Linked DNA regions of Homo sapiens: all the other regions are linked to region 2. The links come from fine-mapping of genetic effects on gene expression. A gene starts in region 2. Each other region holds a variant in brackets. All regions are shown on one strand. Distances are from middle to middle.

Region 1 (5,852 bases), 62 kb after region 2:
CTCAAGAGGCTGAGGCAGGAGAATCGCTTGAACCCAGGAGGCGGAGGCTGCAGTGAGCCAAGATCACACCACTGCACTCCAGCCTGGGCGACAGAGCAAGTCTGCCACAAAAGCAAAATTAAAACAAACAAACAAACAAACAAACAAACACACACTAGAAGTCCTGGTGTAGCCGCATTGGCTGGGAGTGGACACAACCCCTCTGCTCCTGAGGCCCCTCTCACTGACTGGACAGGCCTGGGGCGGGGGTGCCCCATTGCCAAATGTGTTTGGGCGGGGACGCTGTGTTTGAGTCAGGTCAGAGTTCCTGATGACAGTATGTGACCGTCCCTTTCCTGCAGCCCTCTCCAGCCTTACCCCCTTTTCCCAGCACCTTCAGTTACATTTATTCTCCCCCGCTTCAGATCCTGGCAGCCCCCACCTCTAGCCTGAGCCCCTACTCCCACTCCTTCAGTTCCTATCCTTCCCAGCTCTTCATCTCGGCATCCCGTGTCCCTGGAAACGCAGCCCAGGCCTCGTTGCTAGGAGAATCCGGTGAGGGCTGGAGGCAAAGGTGAGGGGCACCCCTTGCAAGCATCGGGGAGGCGGCCCCGGCGTAGGTCTGCTGCACCATATGGCGCTTGGGCACAGAGAGAGGTTCTTAAACTCAGTCCAGACAAACAGTTGACAGCAAAATCAGCTCTTCAGATCTTTCAAAATATTGGGCGTGCAGGAAGCAATGTGAGAAATCCACAGAAGTGGCTTGCTGAGGCCCTGAAGCAGCACGCCGACTGATTACGAGGAAGAGAAATGGAAATGTTTCAAGATTTTTTTTTTTTTTTTCCTAAAAAGGGTTCTCAAAGAAAAGGCAAGATGAAGAACAGAAGCAGAGCTCACTGATGGTCAAGGGAAGAGACGAGCTCAATGGCTACAAAGCTGAGATCCGGTGGTAAACCCTGGACACATCTCCCTGTGGACTTGATTTTACTTTGGAATGGTTTTGTTGGTGCTGGTGGTAGGCAGTGGATAGGTGGTTGTTTTTAGGACATCGAGGCAAATCTTCCCGAAAATAAGCAGCGTGGCCAGGCACGGTGGCTCACGCCTATAATCCTAGCACTGTGGGAGGCCGAGGAGGGCAGATCGCTTGACGTCAGGAGTTCAAGACCAGCCTGGCCAACATAGTGAAACTCCCTCTGTACTAAAAATACCAAAAAAAATTAGCCAGGCATGGTGGTGCACGCCTGTAGTCCCAGCTACTCAGGAGGCTTGAACCCAGGAGGTGCAGTGCAGTGAGCTGAGATCCACTACACTCCAGCCTGGGCAATAAGAATGAGACTCCAACTCAAAAAAAGAAAAAAAAAAAAAGAAAGAAATGGAAGAGCAGTGTCTGCTTCCACCTGCTAGGAGGGCTGCGGGAACCCATGACAGCCCAGAAGCAGAGGACTGAGCCCAGGCCCGCCACCTCCCCTGCCCCCCCTGCCCCGCCACCTTCCCCCCAGCGCTGTGCCACAGAGCCCTCTGCAGGTCTCTCTCCAGCTGTGCCTGGGGCCCGCTCACATCGGTGACCCACCTATGCTATCCCACCTGTGCTGTCCTCTCTACCTGGGGTGCGCTTCCAGTCACCTGGCTGCTGCCCATACATCCTTCAAGATCCCTTTCAAACCCCACCACCTTGAGCGGACACCTCTGACTCTGCCCCTCTGCCAGGATTCTACACATATAGCCCCGTCCTCCCTCCCATGACATTCTATTAAAAATTCTGTATTTCTGCCCCTTTCCCCTCTCCAATCAGCTCCCTGTACACCTTCCAGCTCCTCTACCCTGTACCCCTCAGGAGGCAGGATCTTTCCTGCCCAAGGCCCTGGGCAGAGTCCACCTGGGTAAAACTGTCCTGCCAGAGTTAGGTGGGCAGCTTAGGCCTCCAGGCCTCAGGTCTGACTGCAGTCCTGTGGGGGTTCTGCAGAGGAAGGGACAGGTCCCGGGTCCCCACACTCTACGCGAAACCTAAAAAACATGGTGCTGCTTTTGGCCATCAGTGGGGGCTGGATTCCCAAGTTCAAGGCAATTCCCACTTCCCTGAGCCCAGACACCAACCCATCCTCATGGTCTGGAATGACAGCCTGGGAACCACAGGTGGGCGGCACAGAGCCCACTGTATCCTAGGAGAAGTCCTCAGACGCCTCCCTGACAGAGAAACCAAGGTTTCCCAAGGGAGCAGAGAGTCACCCACAGCCTCTGCAAACGCCACAGGCTGCAACACAGATGCTAAAATTACCTGAAACCCGAAGCAGATGGTGGGGAAGACACTGAACACAGAGGTCCAGGAGGCAGGGCTGTAAACAGACAAGAACAGGAGTTTATTAAAGAAGGGTCACACCCGGAACAACCTGCGGCTGCAATGGTGAATTTTAAAGGATGCTGGGAAAATGTAACAGAGCATGGCTGCAAGATGTATTTTTAATGACTGTGTCCGTGACCGGGCTTTTGGAAATGGAAAAGGATGCTGGCTAAATGCTGCACTTTCTAAATACGTCTTTGCTGACATTTGGTAACATGACATTTTACATGTGGGCAGAATTTGGGCAGGAAAACCGCAGTAGGAACTCCCAACTTCCCTCTTGAAGGCTGCTGGCTCCCAGTGCGGTTTGGTAATTGGCAGGGGCGGGGGCACCCAGAGCATCCACCCAGTGATCCCAAATAGCACAAGGATGGTTTGAGCTCTGTCCAAGCCACCTAAGAGGACAGAGGTCTGCGTGGGGAGAACCTCCAGGTCCAGCCTCTTGGGATCCCCGCCTGGTTCACAGCTTCCTTTGACAGGCTTTGCAGGTGTAATTACTGAAAGTAAGATGAAGTCATGGTGGATTAGGGTGAGCCTGAATCCAATGCCTGCT[G/A]CCCTTATTGGAAGGGAAAACAGACAGAGAGAACATGGTGTGAGGATGAAGGCCAAGACCCAGTGATCCGTCTATCAGCCAAGGAACACAGATCGCCGCGGCCCCCAGAAGCAGGAAGAGACAGGAAAGATCTGCCCCTGGAGTCTTCGGAGGGAGCATGGCCTGACCACACTTTGATCACTTGTCACAACAGCCCTCGGACACTCACATATCCTAACTCATCACCTCCTGTTTTTACCAGGGCCTCCTCATCCCCTCGACCTGCCTGTGCTAGAGTACCACCGGCTCAGTGTACAGATCTCAGCACTCACAGCCTTCAATGCCATGTCTGGGCCAACGTCAGCCACGTTTCTCCTGCCAGCCCGGACCTCTCTCTCTGAACTTCAGACACACAGACCTGCCCAGCTGCTTGACTTCCCTCTTAGATGTCTCCAGGTCGGCTCTACCTTGACTGTTCCAGCCTGAGCTGCTCCCAGGGACCCGCCCTGCTCAGTCCTCTCTAATCCAGGAAACAGCATCTCCATCCTTCCCACTGTTCAAGCTGAGAGCTCCAAGTTACCTTGACTTTCTTCTCTCTCTTACTCACCTTCCAACCCACCAGCAGCACTGACCACAGAATTCACAGGGCCAGGTGCAGGAGGAATATGCGGGGACCCTTGTTGGACAAGGATTAAGGATTTTAAGACAGTGACATCAGAAGGGTACACTGAGCATGGGGCCTGGGTGACTGTAGGGGTCGCACACCCACGAGCCAGCCCTGCCACTGGGAAATCCGATCTCAAGCATATCCAGTCTGACTATTCCTCATTGCCTCCTCTGAAGCCACCAGGTCTGGGACCCGGGATCTAGGCAGAGGCCTCCCACTTGGTCTCTGTTGCTGCCCCTGGCTCCCAAGGACCACAGAACAGAATAAAAAGGGTGAGCCTTTTTATTAATTTTTTTCTTTTTTGAGACAGAGTCTTGCTCTGTTGCCCAGGCTGGAGTGCAGTGGTATCATCTCGGCTCACTGCAACCTCTGCCACCCGGTTCAAGCAATTCTCCTGCCTCAGCCTCCTGAATAGCTGGGATTACAGATGCCCACCATCACACCTGGCTGAATTTTATATTTTTATGTAGAGACAGGGTTTCACCATGTTGGCAAGGTTGGTTTTGAACTCCTGACCTCAAGTGATCCACCTGCCTCAGCCTCCCAAAGTGCTGGGATCACAACTATGAGCCACCACACCCTACCTAGAGTGACCCTTTCTAAAAACAAATCCTGTCACATCCCTGCTGTACTCAAAACACTGCCAAGTCTCCCAACTCATCCAGAGCAAAACCAAACTCCTCGCCGTGGCTCTGAATCCCTGTACGACATCCCCGCCCATGCTCTCTGCCCTTGTTCCGGCTGGCTTGGCCACACCGGCCTCCTCACTGTTCCCCTGCCCCGGTACATGCAGCTGGATGGCTGCCAGATTCTGTACCTCCACACTGTGGGGACAAGTCTGCAATAACCTATGACCCCTAGGCCGCCGCAGCCTTTGGCGGTTCTGCGTCCCTTGGCCTGTCCCGGTCATCGCTAGCCACGGCCAGGTCCCTGCAGCAGAAGGAGAGTGGCCCTCCCTTGCCTTCACCGCATCAGAGACGGAAAGAACTGGAAGGAAGGAGCCCAGGCTCTGCAGTGAGCCACGAGAGGCTCCTCCTCCAAGACTCCCCTCACAGACTCCCCTGCCGTGCCTCCCCGCCGAGGCTGCCGGAAGCTGTTCCCTCAGACTTACCTCAGTGAAGGATGGGACTCACGCACGAGGCCCTGGGGCCAGAGGTAGTACTGCACGGTGATGACCAGGGCCAGGTAACAGGCAGCCAGAGTGCCTAGGATGCTAACACAGTGACCGTGTGAGGGGCTGCGCAGTGGGTGACATGTGCGGTTGATGCACGGGGACAGTAGTGGGATCTGAATCCCAGCTCCGCCCTTGACAATGAGGTGCTGGCCAAGCTGTCCACCTCTGCCTCACCATCCTCATCTGTACAGGGGGCATGTGGGGCAGGGCTGCTTTGGGGTCAAGGGGTCAGATGTAGAGTTTTGTTGTTGTTGTTTTGTTGTTGTTGTTGTTTTTTGAGACGGAGTCTCGCTCTGTTGCCCAGGCTGGAGTGCAGTGGCGCAATCTTGGCTCACTGCAAACTCTGCCTCCCGGGTTCAAGCAATTCTCCTGCCTCAGCCTCCCGAATAGCTGGGATTACAGGTGTCCGCCCCCACGCCTCGCTAATTTTTGTACTTTTAGTAGAGACAGGGTTTCACCGTGTTGGTCAGGCTGGTTTTGAACTGCTGACCTCGTGATCTGCCTGCCTTGGCCTCCCAAAGTGCTGGAATTACAGGTGTGACGCCCAGCCCAAATGTGTAGAATTCTTAATGGCACCCGGCGCCCTTCGGGATGGCAGCTGTAATAGTGTTTCCTTCCCACCAGCAAAAGCTAATCAGCCACTCAGCCTGATGCCTAAGGCAGGACGCCAGCAGGCTCGCTCACACTTGAGAGGGGACAAGCCGCCCCCTGGCTTGGTCTGAGTGGCACGAGAGCCTTGCAGGGCAGAGACCTGAGGGAGGCTCGGGTTTGCTGCCTGCTGTTTCTATACAATGTCTATTGTTCATACACAACAGGGAAAAGGCAGGCAGCAGAGGGAGATGGATACTGTTTCCAAGCTTTATTTCTTCCTAAGTATACAGACCCTTAGCCACAAAAAAACAACCTCTGTGTGTGTGCACACATGTGCGTGCATGGGCACGGGGACATGCGGGGATGGGGGTGCATGTGTGGGTGGGTGAGCATGGGTGGGTGTGGGTACGTGGGTGTGCATGGGTGGGTGTGGGTAGGTGGGTGTGCATGGGGGGGTGTGGGTAGGTGGGTGTGCATGGGGGGGTGTGGGTAGGTGGGTGTGTATGTGTGGGTGTGGGTAGGTGTGTGTTGTGGGGAGGCGTCTCTCTCTCTCTGCAGCCATGTGCAAAAA
Region 2 (5,852 bases):
GCTCTGGAGGCTGCCCTCTGAACCCCACCCTACACCACCCTAGAGCATCCTACACCACCCTACACCACCTCTCCTGAGGGAGGCACCCTTGTTAGCTCCATTTTACAGAAGAGGAGACTGAGGCTTAGAGAGGTTGAATTACCTGGCCTAGTCCTACAGCTACAGCCTAGTCCAGCTCCAGGGCCTGACACTGCCCTGGACATCTCCCGTCCCACCCAGCCCCCCAACCCCTAACAGTGTCTGACTCTGGCGTCCTGCATCCTCCCCAACAGAGGTCTTCGCAACAGCCGGGCCACTGCCGGGGACATCGCCCACTACTACAGGGACTACGTGGTCAAGAAGGGTCTGGGGCATAACTTTGTGTCCGGTGCTGTAGTCACAGCCGTGGAGTGGGGGACCCCCGATCCCAGCAGCTGTGGGGCCCAGGACTCCAGCCCCCTCTTCCAGGTGAGCGGCTTCCTGACCAGGAACCAGGCCCAGCAGCCCTTCTCGCTGTGGGCCCGCAACGTGGTCCTCGCCACAGGCACGTTCGACAGCCCGGCCCGGCTGGGCATCCCCGGGGAGGCCCTGCCCTTCATCCACCATGAGCTGTCTGCCCTGGAGGCCGCCACAAGGGTGGGTGCGGTGACCCCGGCCTCAGACCCTGTCCTCATCATTGGCGCGGGGCTGTCAGCGGCCGACGCGGTCCTCTACGCCCGCCACTACAACATCCCGGTGATCCATGCCTTCCGCCGGGCCGTGGACGACCCTGGCCTGGTGTTCAACCAGCTGCCCAAGATGCTGTACCCCGAGTACCACAAGGTGCACCAGATGATGCGGGAGCAGTCCATCCTGTCGCCCAGCCCCTATGAGGGTTACCGCAGCCTCCCCAGGCACCAGCTGCTGTGCTTCAAGGAAGACTGCCAGGCCGTGTTCCAGGACCTCGAGGGTGTCGAGAAGGTGTTTGGGGTCTCCCTGGTGCTGGTCCTCATCGGCTCCCACCCCGACCTCTCCTTCCTGCCTGGGGCAGGGGCTGACTTTGCAGTGGATCCTGACCAGCCGCTGAGCGCCAAGAGGAACCCCATTGACGTGGACCCCTTCACCTACCAGAGCACCCGCCAGGAGGGCCTGTACGCCATGGGGCCGCTGGCCGGGGACAACTTCGTGAGGTTTGTGCAGGGGGGCGCCTTGGCTGTGGCCAGCTCCCTGCTAAGGAAGGAGACCAGGAAGCCACCCTAACACTCGGCCAGACCCGCTGGCTCCCAGGCCCTGAGAGGACAGAGATGACCACATCCCTGCTGGATGCAGGACCCGTCCAAAGATGCCCCGGGGAGGGGTGTCAGCCCACGTTGCTGGCCTTTGGGGTCAAGAGGAGTAGGGATCCCAGGCTGCCCTGGACTTAGACCAGTGTCTGAGGTGGTAACAGCGGCCGCAGGCCAGGGTTGGCCTAGACCTGGGATTTGTGGGGAAAGCTGCTGGTGTGACCAGCTGAGCACCCAGCCAGGAGACCTGCAGCCCTGCGCCTTCCAGAAGCAGGTCCCAAATAAAGCCAGTGCCCACCTGCTCTCATGCGTCTGAGGACTCTGTGCTCGGAGGGAGCTGCGTTCCCGGAACCCTGCACTGGGCTGGGGGGAAGGGAGGAAAGGGGATTGTGGGAGGAGTCCTGGGGCATGTGGTCCTGGATGAGGTCCATGGCTGGGGCCTTGGGGTACAAAGGATGGTGCCCCAAGTGTGGGGGCAGTTGAGCGGGCAGCTGTACTAGAGTCTGGGGGTGGGAGTGGCGGGTGTGTGCAGGCAGTGATGTCCAGGAGGGCGCTGCAGCCCCGCCCCCTCCGCAGCCTGTCCCAGGCCTCCCTCCTCTCTGTTCTGCCATGCGGCCTCCTTTCAGTCCCTCCTGCTGGCCAGGTCTCTGCCTGCCCCAAGGCCTTTGCACAGAGAGTCCCCAGCCCAGGACAGTTTCCCGCCTTTCTTTAACTCCTTTTCCTTGGGATGTCTCAGCATAAGAATCACTTCCTCTAGGAAGCCTCTTCTGACACAAACCCCTCCACTGCCGTCACAGCAAATACTCCTTTCATGGTCTAAGGTGCTACCTTTTCATAGCAGTGCAGTTTTTTTTTCTTTTTTTTGAGACAGAGTCTCATTTTGTCACCCAGGCTGGAGTGCTGTGGCGCTTGGTTCACTACAACCTCTGCTTCTGGGTTGAAATGATTCTCCTGTCTCAGCCTCCCAAGTAGCTGGGATTACAGGTGACTGCCACCTCGCCCAGCTAGTTATTGTATTTTTAATAGAGACGGGGTTTCACCATGTTGGCCAGGCTGGTCTTGAACTCCTGACCTCAAGTGATCCGCCCTCTTTGGCTCCCCAAAGTGTTGGTATCACAGGCATGAGCCACCACACCCTTCCAGCAGTTCAGTTTTAATTGTTCATTTGTTTGTGGAATCATTTCAGTGTTTGGCTCTGCCCACTTGGATGTAAGCTCCAGGAGCTCTGGGAGACCAAGTACACCATCTGTTTTGCCCATTGCTGGAACTCCGTGGTTGGGCACCTGCCTGGCACCTAGTGGGTTCTCCTTAATTCATCTTTTAAATGGATGGGTGGATGGATGGATGGGAGGATGGGTGGGTGGGTGGACAGATGGATAGATGAGAGGATGGTTGGATGGATGGGAGGATGGTGGGTGGGTGGATGGATGGATGGATGGATGGGAGGGAGGGGGGTGGGTGGGTGGGTGGATGGATGGGAGGGAGGATGGATGGATGGATGGGAGGGAGGGAGGATAGATGGATGGATGGAAGGATGGTGGGTGGATGGATGGGAGGGTGTGTAGGTGGGTGGATGGATGGATGGATGAGAGGGTAGGGGGGTGGATAGATGGATAGATGGGAGGGTGGGTGGGTGGATGGACAGACAGATGGGCGGGCGGGCAGATGGATGGACGGATGGATGGATGGATGGATGGATGGATGGATGGATGGATGGGAGGGTGGATGGATGGATGGATGGAGGGTGGATGGATGGATGCCAGGGAGGGAGGATGAGTGGGTGGGTGAATGGATGGATGGATGGGAGGATGCTGGGTGGGTGGATGGATGGATGGATGAATGGTTGGGAGGGTGGGTGGATGGATGGACGGACAGTCGGCCGGCCGGATGGATGGATGGGAGGATGGGTGGATGGATGTATAGATGGATTGATGGACGGGTAGGCAGGTGGATGGATGGATGGATGGATGGACGGACAGGTGGGTGGGTGGATAGATGGATGGGTGGATGGAGTATGAAGGAAAGATGTTCTGGGGTGAAGACTGGTTCTGGGCGTTTTGTAACCAAGGGGGCGGCCTGAGGGGGCGTGCACGCCCGCGGGAGTTAAGGATGGGCGCCCGCGGGCGTGACGGGGCCGCGGGGCGTGGGCGCCGCTCCCCGGGGCTGGAGCCGGCAGAGGGCGCTCCGGGCTCGCTGGACACCCGCGCTTCGGCCTCTGCTGCGCGCCGCGAGTGGGAGGGGGGACTTTAGAAGCGGGGAGAGCAGGAGACTTTTGGGGAGCAGGCCCCAGGGGCGCCGCCCCGCCCCCAGGCCCCACATACCCCTCCCCTCCGGGTAGCCCCCTCTGTGGCTGCGCCCGCGCCCCTCGCCCCGGCGGGCAGTCCTCAGGCCCCGCGCCCGGCCGGCGGGGGTGGGGGCGGCGGGGAGCGGGCACGTGGCTCGGGGTCCGGCCGGCCCGCCCCCCGGCGCCGGCCAGTCCCCGCGGTGTCCGCGGCCGCGGGGGCAGCGGGAGAGAGGGCGGGGCGGCGCGGGCAGCGCGGGGAGGGGGTCGCGCGGGGGCGGGCCGCAGCTGGGCGGGGGTCGGCGGGCTTCCGGGCGGCGGCGGCGGGCGCGGCGCGATGTGCGAGCGGGCGGCGCGCCTGTGCAGGGCCGGCGCGCACAGGCTGCTCCGGGAGCCGCCGCAGCAGGGCCGGGCGCTGGGCGGGCTGCTGCGCTGGGTGGGCGCCAGGATGGGCGAGCCCCGGGAGTCGCTGGCCCCCGCCGCCCCCGCGGACCCCGGCCCAGCCTCGCCGCGCGGGGGCACCGCCGTCATCCTGGACGTGAGTACGCGCCGGCCGGGACCCCCGCCGTGGCCTCCGCTGGGACCCGGAGCCCCCTCCGCCCCTCGGGCGGACCCCGACGCCGCGACCCGCGAGGCCCTCCCTACCCGGGCAGGAGACCCCCGGCCCCTCCGCGTGCCGGAGCGGGAGCCCCCAGCCCCGCCACGTCCAGGCCGGTCTCCAGCCCAGTCCTCTCCCTGGACCGGGAGACCCCCCTCCTCCGCCCCTCCACCGGCGCTTCTCGGAGTCCCTGCCTGCCCACAGTGGGGAGCCGTGAGCCCCCGGACCCGGCCACTGTCCCCCTAGTTTTGTCCAAGCCAAACCCCCACCCTTTACCCCGCGGGACCGGAGCCCCTCGCCGCGTCCAGCCGCCTCCTCCTCTCCATCCCGGATCCTGTCCGGAGCGATACTTTTCTGAGACCCCTAACAACCCCTACCTCTAGCCCACCTCTCTTCGCCCTAGACCCTGAGCCCCCGTTCATCTCACGCTCAAAGACCCTTTGCCCCAGCTACTGCCACTTTAAAAGTGAAGCCCCCTCCCCACCTTCTGTCTTCTCGTCTCCTTTCCATTGAGCCAGAGCCATCGCCCATCAGCCCTGAGCTGGTACCCCTCTGGTCTTCCCCACCCCGCCCCCTTCCATTCCAAGTCCTCTGTTCCCTTCCCCACACCCCTCTACCCTACAGAGAGCTGGGTCCTCTTCATGGACCAGACTCACCCCTCACCCCTCCTAACTCCCCTGGGACCCAAATCACCCATCTCTGGGAAGCCCACCTCACCCTCCCACCCGCCCCACCCGGGAGGGAGGAATCTTCAGGGGGCGGCTCGGAGGAGGAGGACTTCTCCCAGCAGAGAGTGCTAGGAGGAGGTGGAGGAGGCTTCTGGGGATGTTGACTGCGTGTTTCAGCGAGGGTCCTGCTGGGGTGGGGCTGGGGGCTGCCTCTGCCTGTGTGGTGGATTTCTGGGAGAGTGGTGGGTGTGTGTGAATGTGCACACGCGTGTATCGCGGATCCCTGTGAGTCGGGGGATTCCCTCCCTTCCTCTCTCCTCTTCCCTGCTCCTGGAACCCTTGGCCGGGGTCTGGGCTGGGAGGGCCGGCCAGAGCAGGGGGAGCTCTAGAGTGCCACACTCGCAGGCACACATTCACACACTCACGCACTCGCTTACGCACGCACACACAGCCAGAGACACACCCATGCAGCCAAACCATCCCCTCCTCAGGACCCCCGCAGAGCTCCCACTGAAAGTCCTGGGCAGAGCCCTGCAGCCCCAAGCTGCCCTGCATGGAAGCCCTGCCCAGTCAGGGTGGGGGCTCTGAGGTTCCATCTCCTCACCTGCCAAAAGGAGTGATGAGCGGGGGGTGGGGCGGGAGGTGCTCATGCAGACTCCTGGAGCTGGCTGACATTACCAGGTGTCAGCCCTGCCATGTCACTCATGTGTTCAGCATTCCTGCCCAGAGCCGGCACCTACCTGGTGCCTGGCCTCAAGGGGGATCTGGGACACCCAGATAGGGACCCCAGTTTTGAGGAGCCTTGCCCAGTCAGGAACGGGGCTGCGGGGTGCCCAGGCTGGATCTTTGAGGAGGGCTTGGGGATCTGAGGTTCAGCCAGGAGGAGGGGTGATGTTTGAGAGGCCCTCCCATAGCTGTGCTTCAGTCTCACCGCCCAGGTGCCTAGAAATGACCAAGGGTGCCCCCTTTCTCGTTGCCTGGAGGGATGGGGGGCGAGGGCATCTGTCCTTTACCCCAAGGCGAGGACAGAGGGTGGAAGGGTCAGAGTGAGTATTACCTCCTCC
Region 3 (5,852 bases), 26 kb after region 2:
AGCCACCACAGCTAGCCTATTTTCTCTTTCTCTCTCTCTCTTTCTTTCTCTCTTTCTCTCATTCGTTCTTTTTTCTTTTTCTATTTCCTTTTCTTTTCTTTTCTTTTTTTTTTTTTTTTGAGATCGAGTCTTGCTCTGTCACCCAGGCTGGAGTGCAGTGGCGAGATCTCAGCTCACTGCAACGTCCGCCTCCCAGGTTCAAGCGATTCTCCTGCCTCAGCCTCCCTAGTAGCTGGGATTACAGATGCCCACCAGCACACCCAGCTAATTTTTGTATTTTTAGTAGAGATGGGGTTTCACCATGTTGGCCAGGCTGGTCTTTAGGGTGATCCACCCGCCTCAGCCTCCAGGTGCTGGGATTGCAGGCTTGAGCCATGGAGCCCGGCCTTATTTTATTTATTGACACAGAATCTTGCTGTGTCCCCCAGGCTGGAGTACAGTGGCACCATTGTGGCTCACTGCAATCTCCAACTCAGGTTCAAGCAATTCTCCCACCTCAGCCTCCCAAGGAGCTGGGACTACAGGCATGTAGTCCCACCCACACCCAGCTATTTTTTTTTTTTTTTTTTTTGTAGAGACGGGGTCTCGCCATGTTGGCCAGGCTGTTCTCAAACTCCTGGTCTCAGCAATCCTGCTGTCTCAGTCTTCCAAAGGGCTGGGATTACAGGCAGGAGCCACCACACCCCAGCCCACTTTTGAAAATTAGAAAGCAGTTTAGGAAATGGCATATGGTTATAACTGCACTCTCGGCATCACATGCCGTAAGTGAAGTAACTGTAAAAATAAGCACCTGTCATTGTTTACGATCCAGCTTGAATCCTGAGGCTTGCCACCTCTCTGTTAAAAAGAGAGACTGGGGGGAAATCAGAGAGGTGTTGAAGACAGTAGTAGCAAGTTGAGAGTTTCTCAGGAGGACTGAAAGAGACGTGAAAGAGGAGTGTTTCTTTCTGGTCTTGTGTTAGGCCTTGTTTGTGTGCTTGGAACCATGGGAATGCATCTGGGGTCCCATCCTAGGTGGTGGCTGCTGTGTTAGGGGTGTGACCTGGTATTTAGAGAGGAGCGACATTCTCGTGGCTCAGCAGTCCCATCTCCCGGGGAACACGAGCACCCGTCCCCCCGCCCACCTCCATTTGCTGTTTCAAATTGAGAAAAACCCTTCTTTGCTCAGTTCTTCCCAGAACAGCTGATGTGCTTGACACAGAAGAAAAAGAGAAAATGCAAACAGATGAGGGAAACAGCCAGGTGTCGGCACCCAAGCTCGATTGAGCCCTTAATTTTCCAGGCAGAGAGGTACCTCAGGACCAGGATATTGGTTTGCTGGGGGACTGGGGTTTGATCGTGTGTTTCTTCGTAGTTGAAGAGCTGGTCCTGATCAGACATGATTGTGAAGGTAACTCTGAGACACTGTTTCCCAAATGAGTTTGATCTGAGCATTTGCGCTGAATCACCTGGGAAAATTAAAATACACATTCCTGGGCTCCTGGCCATACTCACTGGCTAGAATCCCTGGACTGGAGCCCAGAACTCTGCACATGTGGTCAGTCTTGTGATTCTTGGGTGCCCCAGAATTAGCAGCCATCGCTGTGAAAAAAGCTGACACTTAGATTTCCTGGGTTTTCCTGTTACTATCTTGATGAAAAACTTGCTGTTTTTCTCCTGCCGCAGAACAGATAGTATGGCTGCGCAGTTTTCAGGGCAGACTTCCCACACTGGGTCAGCTCCATCACGCGTCAGCAGTTACACCCACCTGCCCCCATGGTGGGGACCTTACTTGGGGATGTTGTCAGACGGGGCAGCTTGTCGTGATACCTCTGTTCCACACATGCCCCTCCCTCGAACTTCCCCAAATCTCAGCTAGTTTGGCTCTAGGCTGTGGGTCCCTGAGGACTATCCTGTTTCCCAGCCCCAGGACAGTCTCCCAGGATGTCACCTCTAGCACAGGCTACTGGCTCAGACCCCACCACCCGGGAGCCCTGAGCAACCCGTCATGGTCTGAGGGATACATTTAATTTCCTGCTGGTTTATAGAGAAGCCATGATTGACACCATAAAGACTCTGCCAGCCTCTCCCCTCCCAAGGCGGGAGTCGAGTTTGCTCCCTCCGCAAGGGGGAGAGCCTGGCGGAGTGTTCAAGGTTCACAAGAGACAAATTCCAGAATGCACCAAGACCGCGATGCACAGAGACCAAGCGGGTGTTGGGGCCGTGCACAGGGCACTCTGTGTGTCTTCTGGGGGAGTGTCTGTGTTTCTGTATGTCTGCCAGGAGCTTTTCAGCATCCTTTTGCATGGGAGGATTTGGTCATTCATTGAGCATTTTTGAGTCCCTACTATGTGCTGGACACAGTGCAAGGTGAGCTGTGTGTGTGTGTGTGTGTGTGTGTGTGTGTGTGTGTGTGTGTGTGTGTCTGCCTCTGCCTGTGGCTAGCTGTGCCTGTCAGGGCACGCAGGGGTGTGTATGCACATGAGTATGCACAGGAGAGGGGTGTCCAGGGCCGGGAGATGGGGCCAGGCCCAGGTCAGGATCACAGTTTCTGTCCTGTTACATCCCGACTGTCAGTGTCTCTTTAGGTCTCGCTTTTATGTGTATGTGTTGGAGGGGGGTCTTGAAACCAGGTCCCCCACCCCAGAGGGCACCAAACATTAAATGGGCCTATCATGAGGGAGGGAGGGGGACTTGGTCACTCCACAGCTTGGGCTCTACACGTGCCCGAAAGCTTCGAGCTGTTAGAGTGGGGGTGGGTCCCTGGCTCAGCCTCACTCTGGAACTGAATCTCTTGGGGAAAAGGCCTAGGCCGTGGGGTCCTAGAATGGAGCTGAATTCGAATCCCAGCTCTGCCCAGCTAGCTGCGTGGCCCTGGCTGAGTCACCTGCTTTAAGAACCTCATTTCCTCCTCTGTCAAAACAAAGGCCATGATGCAAGTTCTGTGCATGTGTGAGTCCACTGTCTTGCGTAATAAATGCCTGT[G/T]GAAGATGCTGGAAGTGGTAAGGGCCCTGAAGCCACCGCCATGGTCTGTGTGTGTTCCCATCCAAACTGCAGACAGAACCACATCAAACCCAGCCACAGCGCGGCACAGACCTGGTGTGGAAGCCCCACTCCCGCCTCTGCCCCCAACCACAAGCTCATGGCTATGGAACAAGGCAAGACCCTTCCATCTGGTGAGAGAAAGCGGGGGCCCTGGTGGGGGTACCAGCTGGGGGTCCCGAGGAGTTCTGAGAGTCCTCTGACAGGGACTGGGGAGATGAGCAAGTTTGATGCCCCTGGAGGGGCTGGATGTTTCCAGCTTCCCCCCGAAGCCCTCGTCCTGCCCACCACTGAAGTCTGTGTGTCTCTTTCTCTACCGCAGCCACGGAGGATGCAAAGGAAGAGGGTCTGGAAGCCCAGATCAGCCGCTTGGCAGAGCTGATTGGGAGGCTGGAGAGCAAAGTAAGCCCTGGCCTGACCACGGCGTCTACTCCTTCCAACCCCTGAGGGAGTGCAGAGTTAAGCCTGGAGTTCAGGACAAAAGTCTGGGCTGCAGAGGGGCCAGGGAACCATGAAAAAGACATCCCCCAGGTGGGGCGTGGAGCTGCCGAGGACGAAGCTAAGGATCAAACCCCGGGGGATGCTCGTGTTGTTCAGGCCCAAGGAGGGGCGCCTGGGAAGAGAGAGTGTTGGGGGGTCAGGCGGGCCTGCAGGCAGCAGGAGCAGCTCCAGGAGCAGAGGGTGGTCAGCAGGGTCCCGTGTTGCAAGGCCCTAGCTTCAAGGAGACTTTGCTCTGAAGTGGCTGGAGCAGATATTGGCCGAAAGGCAGCACCAGGATGAAAGAGAGACGTGATGATTCGAGAGAGTTTCAAAACAAGGAAGGAAGTGACCAGCAGTAGCAAATGTATTAAGTGTGATATGGGACGTCCACAGGTGATAGAAAATGGCACAGCCCTTACAGAAAACATTTTCAGATAATGTTTCGTGACTCGGGATAGAGTGCTCACAATATGACCATTTGGTGGAAAGAAAAGTTTGTCTTAGGGCCTACAGACAGATGGGCTCAGGTATCAGTCAGAATTCTGGTTGTGCCACTTCATAGCTGTGTGACCCTGGGCCAGGGACTTGTCCTCTCTGAGGCTTAGATTCCTCCTCTGATAATCAAGAAAATAACCTGGAGCATGGGACCCCTCCCTCATAGGGGTGTCGTTAGGATGAACCAAAATGATGTCTCCGGTTTAGCACAGGGCCCGGTGCTGTAGCTTGCATTTAATATTAGCAATGTTAGCAATTATTATGAGGCATTCTGTTACCCAAACCTATCCACATGCACACAGCACACCCGTATACCCACATAAGCCAAGGTAACTGAGCTCTCAGAACCCTGGGATTGAGGTGGTTTTATGTTTCTCCTACTTTTGTGTATTTTTTTTACACCCTTTGTAAAGGGTATTGCTACTTTTAGTTTGGGGGTTCTCAGGCATTCATGGGGGCAGGAACAAGGGGCTCCCCGCATGGAGGGAGACAGAGGCTGACGTGGAATGAAGTCCGAGGGAGGAAGCTCAAACTTCCCCTCCTGCAGGGATGAGGCTGAGGTGGAGTTACCCCCTTCCTGAAGCCAGCTGCGGGAGCGGCTCGGAGGGGACCCCGTGGCCCGGTTGTCATAACAACTCAGCGGGCGCCTCGGGAGGGAGACTCTGAAGCTTATTTTTAGAGCACCGTCGCCCTAACAACCAGGCTGGCTGGTAACCACGGAGTACCTGGGCGTCCTGGAGACGGGGTGGGACCAGGTCCTCCTCCCCAGCCTCTAACTGGCCCGGGCGGTCAGCAGGGGCCAATCCGGGCCTGGCTTCAGGCCCCGCCCTTCACCGGCCAACCGGAGCTGCCTCTGGGCTGGAAGGATGGAGGCTCTAGGGGCCCCTGGCTGGGAGAAGAATGGGGCAGATACAGGGGCCACAGTGCCTCTCCTCATCCTCCTATGGCTTTTCCAGCCCCAGGACCCCTCACGTATGCTTGTAAAACCATGGAAACAGACTTGTTCCTGCCAGGCACACCTTCACCACTTACCAAGGCGTGTTCATGCTGTGTGCCCCCAGAAGGCAGTACCCTTGCCAGGATCAGCTACTACAGAGCCCAGTGCAAAATGAGCGTGCAAGGTCCCTTGCTCAAACATTTAGAACGTCACGGTGGTGACTACACAGACTCATCCACCTGCTGCTGTTTTCCTTATTAGCTGGCGTGCTTTACCTGTGGCTGCCCTGTGTGACTCCCGTAGATGGTCTGTCCTCATGGAGGATGGACAGAGATAGCCACAGAGGTGGTTAGTGGGGTGCCCAAGCTGAAGGAAGCAGCAGCATGAGCCTGTGCGTCAGGTAGACACACTGGGTTCAGACCCACGCTCTGACACTTACATGGCTTTCGTGCCTTCAGAGCCGGGGTTCTCTGCCGTGACATAGTGACTGTTGATCTTCTGTGGGGGCTCAGCCCTGTGTGGGCACCAGTCGTGGGCGAACAGAGCAGATGTGGTTCCTGGAGACCGAAACTTACAGTGGGGCAGCACCTTCCCTGGGGAGTCTGGAAGATTGTGTATTTGTAAACCATCTAGCTTAGAGTCTGGGGAAGACCAGAGAGAACAGTTCACCCCATTAGATCCCTGAGGTGCTGGGGGTTATGATTTGGGGTGAATTATAAGTTACAGGGAATCTAAGGGCTGTTGCTCATCATAGTGGCAAACCCCAGCATCTTGGACTCAGGCCTCTGGAGTCCCCCTTGCTGCCTCTCCCAAGCCATCCTCACCCCAGCAACATGTTCTAGGCCCCCTGTAGGCCAGAGGGAGTCTCTGCCACTTCCTAGCGTTGGTCTCCCAGCCCTGTGCAACAGGGCCGGGTCCT
Region 4 (4,000 bases), 100 kb after region 2:
TGAATGACAGGACACCACCACGGCAGAAACAGTGTCACCAGGTACATGTCTCAGGTTACTGACACCTAACAGTCTGGTTTGTGCCACCCTGTACCACTTTAAAAGGGACTAAAAAGTAGAGGACCAGGATCCAGCAATACACAGCGACTAACTGTGATCTGATTTCACTTGTGGTGCTCAGGATAAAGATTTTCATTCACTTGAGAAGGAGCAAAATATATAGCAGAGCTGCTTTTAACTTAAAGAAAAAAGAGTACGAATGTCCCTGTCTCCAATCAGCCTGTCTTGTATTTCAGCTGAATGTCACACCGCCACCACCTGTTTCAGAGCCTCGCCCCAGGCTCACCCAGCTGTGGGGCCCACGGCGCATACTCCCTTGGTAGCTATCACTGAAAACTGGGATTCACTCCTCAGACATTTAACAAACATCCAAAGTGGGCGGAAAGACCATCTGGCTAGCACAGCAGTGCCACTTACCATACTGACTGGCATCAAAACACGTGAAGGGGGCCCCGAGGACCTCTACAAAGTAGCCCATGCTTCTCAGATGCTGGTACATATCCCTGAAATTGGTGTGGATGTGATCACCATTCCTGAAAAACAATAGGCCACAGCATTAAAATGATCGATCTTTACTGGCAATAAAGGCATATCTGGCCACAGGGCCGGCTCTGCAAGAGCACCATGCCATGGCCCACAGAGAAGGCCTGGATGGCTGGCCCACTGGCACAGGCATCAGCTTAGGAGACCTGTGTGCTCTGGTCTGGACACACGGAAATGGCTGATAAGAAGAAACCATGTGCCTGGCAGGTGCATGAAAGAGACAAAATGACCAGAAGAAATGGCCAAAGACATGTTTAATGTGTCCTGGACCATCACTGTAGCAGTCGCGTTCAAGTAAATTGCTGGCAACCATCTGTGTCTGACAGAAGAGCTTAGCAAATAGCCGCGGGAGTGCAGGGACGCTGGAACAAGCCACGCAGGGCCACGGTGCTAAGACAGCGGCACAGCTAACTGATATCACTGCCACTGGTCAACTTTCCATCCCCGTCCCTCCCAAATGAGCTCACTTTCCTATGGGACACTGTATACACCCTCTAGGGGTCACCTCATTCTCACCTCCCAGCAGCACAGACTCCAGGTCCTCTCCTGCAGGCCAACGGGCTTGCCTTGGTCTATGAACTTCCCACCACTTCCTGTCTACCCGTCTCTGGTCTGAGCCCCTCCAATCTGGCTGCCAGAGACATCTTATTTTAAAAGGCAAGTCTGACTCTGTAACTATCCTGGTCACATCTTTCAATGCTTCCCCTTCCCCTACTTTCAGCATGGAGTTCAAACGTAGTCCAAACATAAAAGCAGAAATGAGCTTGGCTAATGCACCAAGAGAAAGTCAGCCCAGCTGCCCTGCAGGGAACAGGCACAGGGAGAGCGGCTATGGGGACTGCGGGGGAAGCAGTGCCAGCTTCTGAAGGGCTGCATGGGTCACACCAGGGGGCTTGGCCGGGTGAGGAAGTCAGAATAGGCAGTCACTGGAGAGCTTGAGGCAAACTGTGTTAGAATTTGTTTTAAGATTACCAAGGTTGCCAGAAGAGGAGTGGAATTTAGGGCAACAACAGCAACAGCAGTGGCACTCAGGAGCTGCTGATGTGGTCCAGGCAAGAGATGACAATGGCATGGACTAGGGTGGGAGCAGGGAGAAGGCCAGAGATGGAAGGATCCAGGATGCAGTTTGAGGGTAAGACTGACAGCTTTGCTGACTGGCGCAATGGGAGAAGGAAGGAAAAGAGAACTTCAAGCTTTTTACTGCATAATCATACTTGTGAAAGTTTCAAAAG[A/G]GAAGTCAGGCTGCCCTAAGTGCATGGCAAAAGCCTGAACATCTCAGCGTCATCAGAGTCCAGGCTCCACGAGAAGCTGAGCAACATCTTTCCAAGAGTTGCGGGAACAGTGGTGCCTCCTCCCACCACGGAGGCTGGGGAGGTGAAGTGCATCCTGTGAGGTGCTTACCAGTCTAAAGGGTCATTCTTCATCCTTAAATTATCCCTGGGGAAATAGCCAGGTGGATAGCGGAGGTTGTGGTACTGATCCCAGAGAACTCTCTTGCTTCGCGGGGGAGTAGGAATTATCTTCACCTTAATGGGGAGCTTTACTGTTGAAGTCTGTTCTGCACCATTTTTTGACTAAAAAAAAAGAAAAGAAACTTGAAACGCCCTCATTGTGCAGAAAGAAACTTTCAGGTTTGAAAACATCATTTCTATTTATCAACTTAACCTAAATAATTTGAACACAAGAATTTCCAATAACAAATGTCTGATGAAAGATTCATGTATCATAACTAAGTCCATTCAAACACTTAAAGAGTTTAACAGTTAAAATTTAAGGCATATTCTATCAATAAAAACTACTAGAGCCTCATAGGATTAACCCTACATTTCCTTTTAGAGAATGTATATTTTTGGTGCACTCCTTTTGAGCTTGAAATCTGGTAGAAAACAGTCTTCTCTGCTGTTGTGTGGCCACAGAACGGCAAGCCCTAGCACTCACTGACTGAGCTACTTCTTCAAACTCCAGCTGCTCCGGAGGCCCTGGAACCATCAATTGTGGCCATCGAGGATAAGCCTATCTGTCAACTGTACTTCCAATGGAGACCCCAGGCATTTGGCCTGTCCCTCCCTGAAAGGTGATGTCAAACAGCTAAGAAAACAAGCCACTTTCCCGCATATCCCTACCTCTGTCTCTGCTGGGGAAGCCACAGTGATCATGACATGGCCCTGAGCAATGCCTTCCCAGGAAGCCGCTTTCTTGGTCACAGAAATGGAGATGGCCAGGTAGCCCGACCAAGGCCATAAGACCGAGGAGTAGGAGAAGGCAACTTCAATGTTGTCTCCGTTCTGTGGCAAATAGGGCTGCCAGTCAGGCTGCAGGAAAAAGAAATCAGACAAAGGCTAAAGTGAAAAGCTCCAGGAGAAAACACGTGGAAACCAGAAAAACTCAATTCTTACCAAAACTGGTTCCGAGAAATACTTCACTAAATAGGGAAAAATAAAATTTATACACAGATACTAAGTAACTACAACCAAAGTAGCCTATGGACTGCCTCGGACGTATCACTAGAAAAGTCTAGAAACCACTATTTCTGACAGCTTCCAATTTTATGGAGACATTTTTTTTCTATTATAAAACAGGAACTTTTGTCAAAAGTTCTTTGATGAAAAACTTCATCTGACTAAGAGAACTTATATAGATGAAAACTCTCAGATTTAAGGTTATTTCCCAATTAGTTGTATGCTTTAAAAAAATCCCATTAATTGAAAGCAGTAACATGACAGGGACACCAGCTGTCCCGAGTCACATTCTGAAGCTGGAAAGAGGTGGCCGGAGGGAGGACTGGCTCAGCTGCGAGATGACCACCCTTCTACCCTCCAGGTGGGAGAAAAGCAGAAAGGGAAGCGTGAGCAGAGGCCATCTGGAAGAGACGTCAATGAGAGCTTGCAACTAACCGGTATTTCAGACGAATCTAAATTACTCATTTCCCTCCACAATCCACACAGCCAGAACTTACTTCCCAAGTAAGCCAGTGGGTTAAGAAAAAAGTATGAAAAAGAAAAATATCTGTAGGATACGGTGTCCCAAATAATGAGGAAGAAAAGGGATTTTTAAAGAATGCTCTTGGAGCCACTGGTTCCCAAGTGAAAAACTTTCGCCCATCTCTTGTAACACATCAAATTAACACAGATGAAACAATTAAATATTTAACAATCATATACATAAAAATTAGTAGAAAAATAAAATGGAAATTTTATTATCTCTCTGGAATGATGTTTCCATCTGCAAAACAATAAAAGTCACAAAACATAAAAATTCAACTACATGAAATGTAAAACTTTTACAGAAGGAAAAAAATCCCCACCACAGTAAGTAATATTAAAGGGAAAAGAGCATCACCTGGAGGAACATTTTGCTGAACACACAGCAATGGTGAATTTCTCTATGACAGGGCGAT

Evidence for each region.
Region 1: its variant is fine-mapped to the expression of NECAB2 in whole blood (TOPMed, PIP above 0.99).
Region 3: its variant is fine-mapped to the expression of NECAB2 in whole blood (TOPMed, PIP above 0.99).
Region 4: its variant is fine-mapped to the expression of NECAB2 in whole blood (INTERVAL, PIP above 0.99).

Annotation. Positions count from the first base shown.
Region 1 is chr16:84,027,240-84,033,091 of GRCh38, forward strand. SLC38A8 (solute carrier family 38 member 8) reads right to left here. Exons shown (of 11, transcript NM_001080442.3): 5 at 4,628-4,729; 6 at 2,255-2,312. Among named protein-coding and RNA genes, the nearest start is that of SLC38A8, 13 kb to the right of the region's middle. RefSeq lists enhancers at 1-386, 5,736-5,852. The variant G/A (reference allele first, on the strand shown) is at 2,871.
Region 2 is chr16:83,964,790-83,970,641 of GRCh38, forward strand. NECAB2 (N-terminal EF-hand calcium binding protein 2) reads left to right here and starts at 3,455. Exons shown (of 13, transcript NM_019065.3): 1 at 3,455-4,060. The coding sequence starts at 3,860. It overlaps OSGIN1 (oxidative stress induced growth inhibitor 1), which reads left to right. Exons shown (of 6, transcript NM_182981.3): 6 at 273-1,543. The coding sequence ends at 1,218. RefSeq lists a silencer at 3,331-3,520.
Region 3 is chr16:83,991,266-83,997,117 of GRCh38, forward strand. It overlaps NECAB2 (N-terminal EF-hand calcium binding protein 2), which reads left to right. Exons shown (of 13, transcript NM_019065.3): 7 at 3,037-3,155; 8 at 3,344-3,423. Among named protein-coding and RNA genes, the nearest start is that of NECAB2, 26 kb to the left of the region's middle. RefSeq lists a silencer at 4,721-4,780. The variant G/T (reference allele first, on the strand shown) is at 2,965.
Region 4 is chr16:84,067,862-84,071,861 of GRCh38, forward strand. It overlaps MBTPS1 (membrane bound transcription factor peptidase, site 1), which reads right to left. Exons shown (of 23, transcript NM_003791.4): 13 at 2,727-2,915; 14 at 2,005-2,177; 15 at 478-593. Among named protein-coding and RNA genes, the nearest start is that of SLC38A8, 27 kb to the left of the region's middle. The variant A/G (reference allele first, on the strand shown) is at 1,836.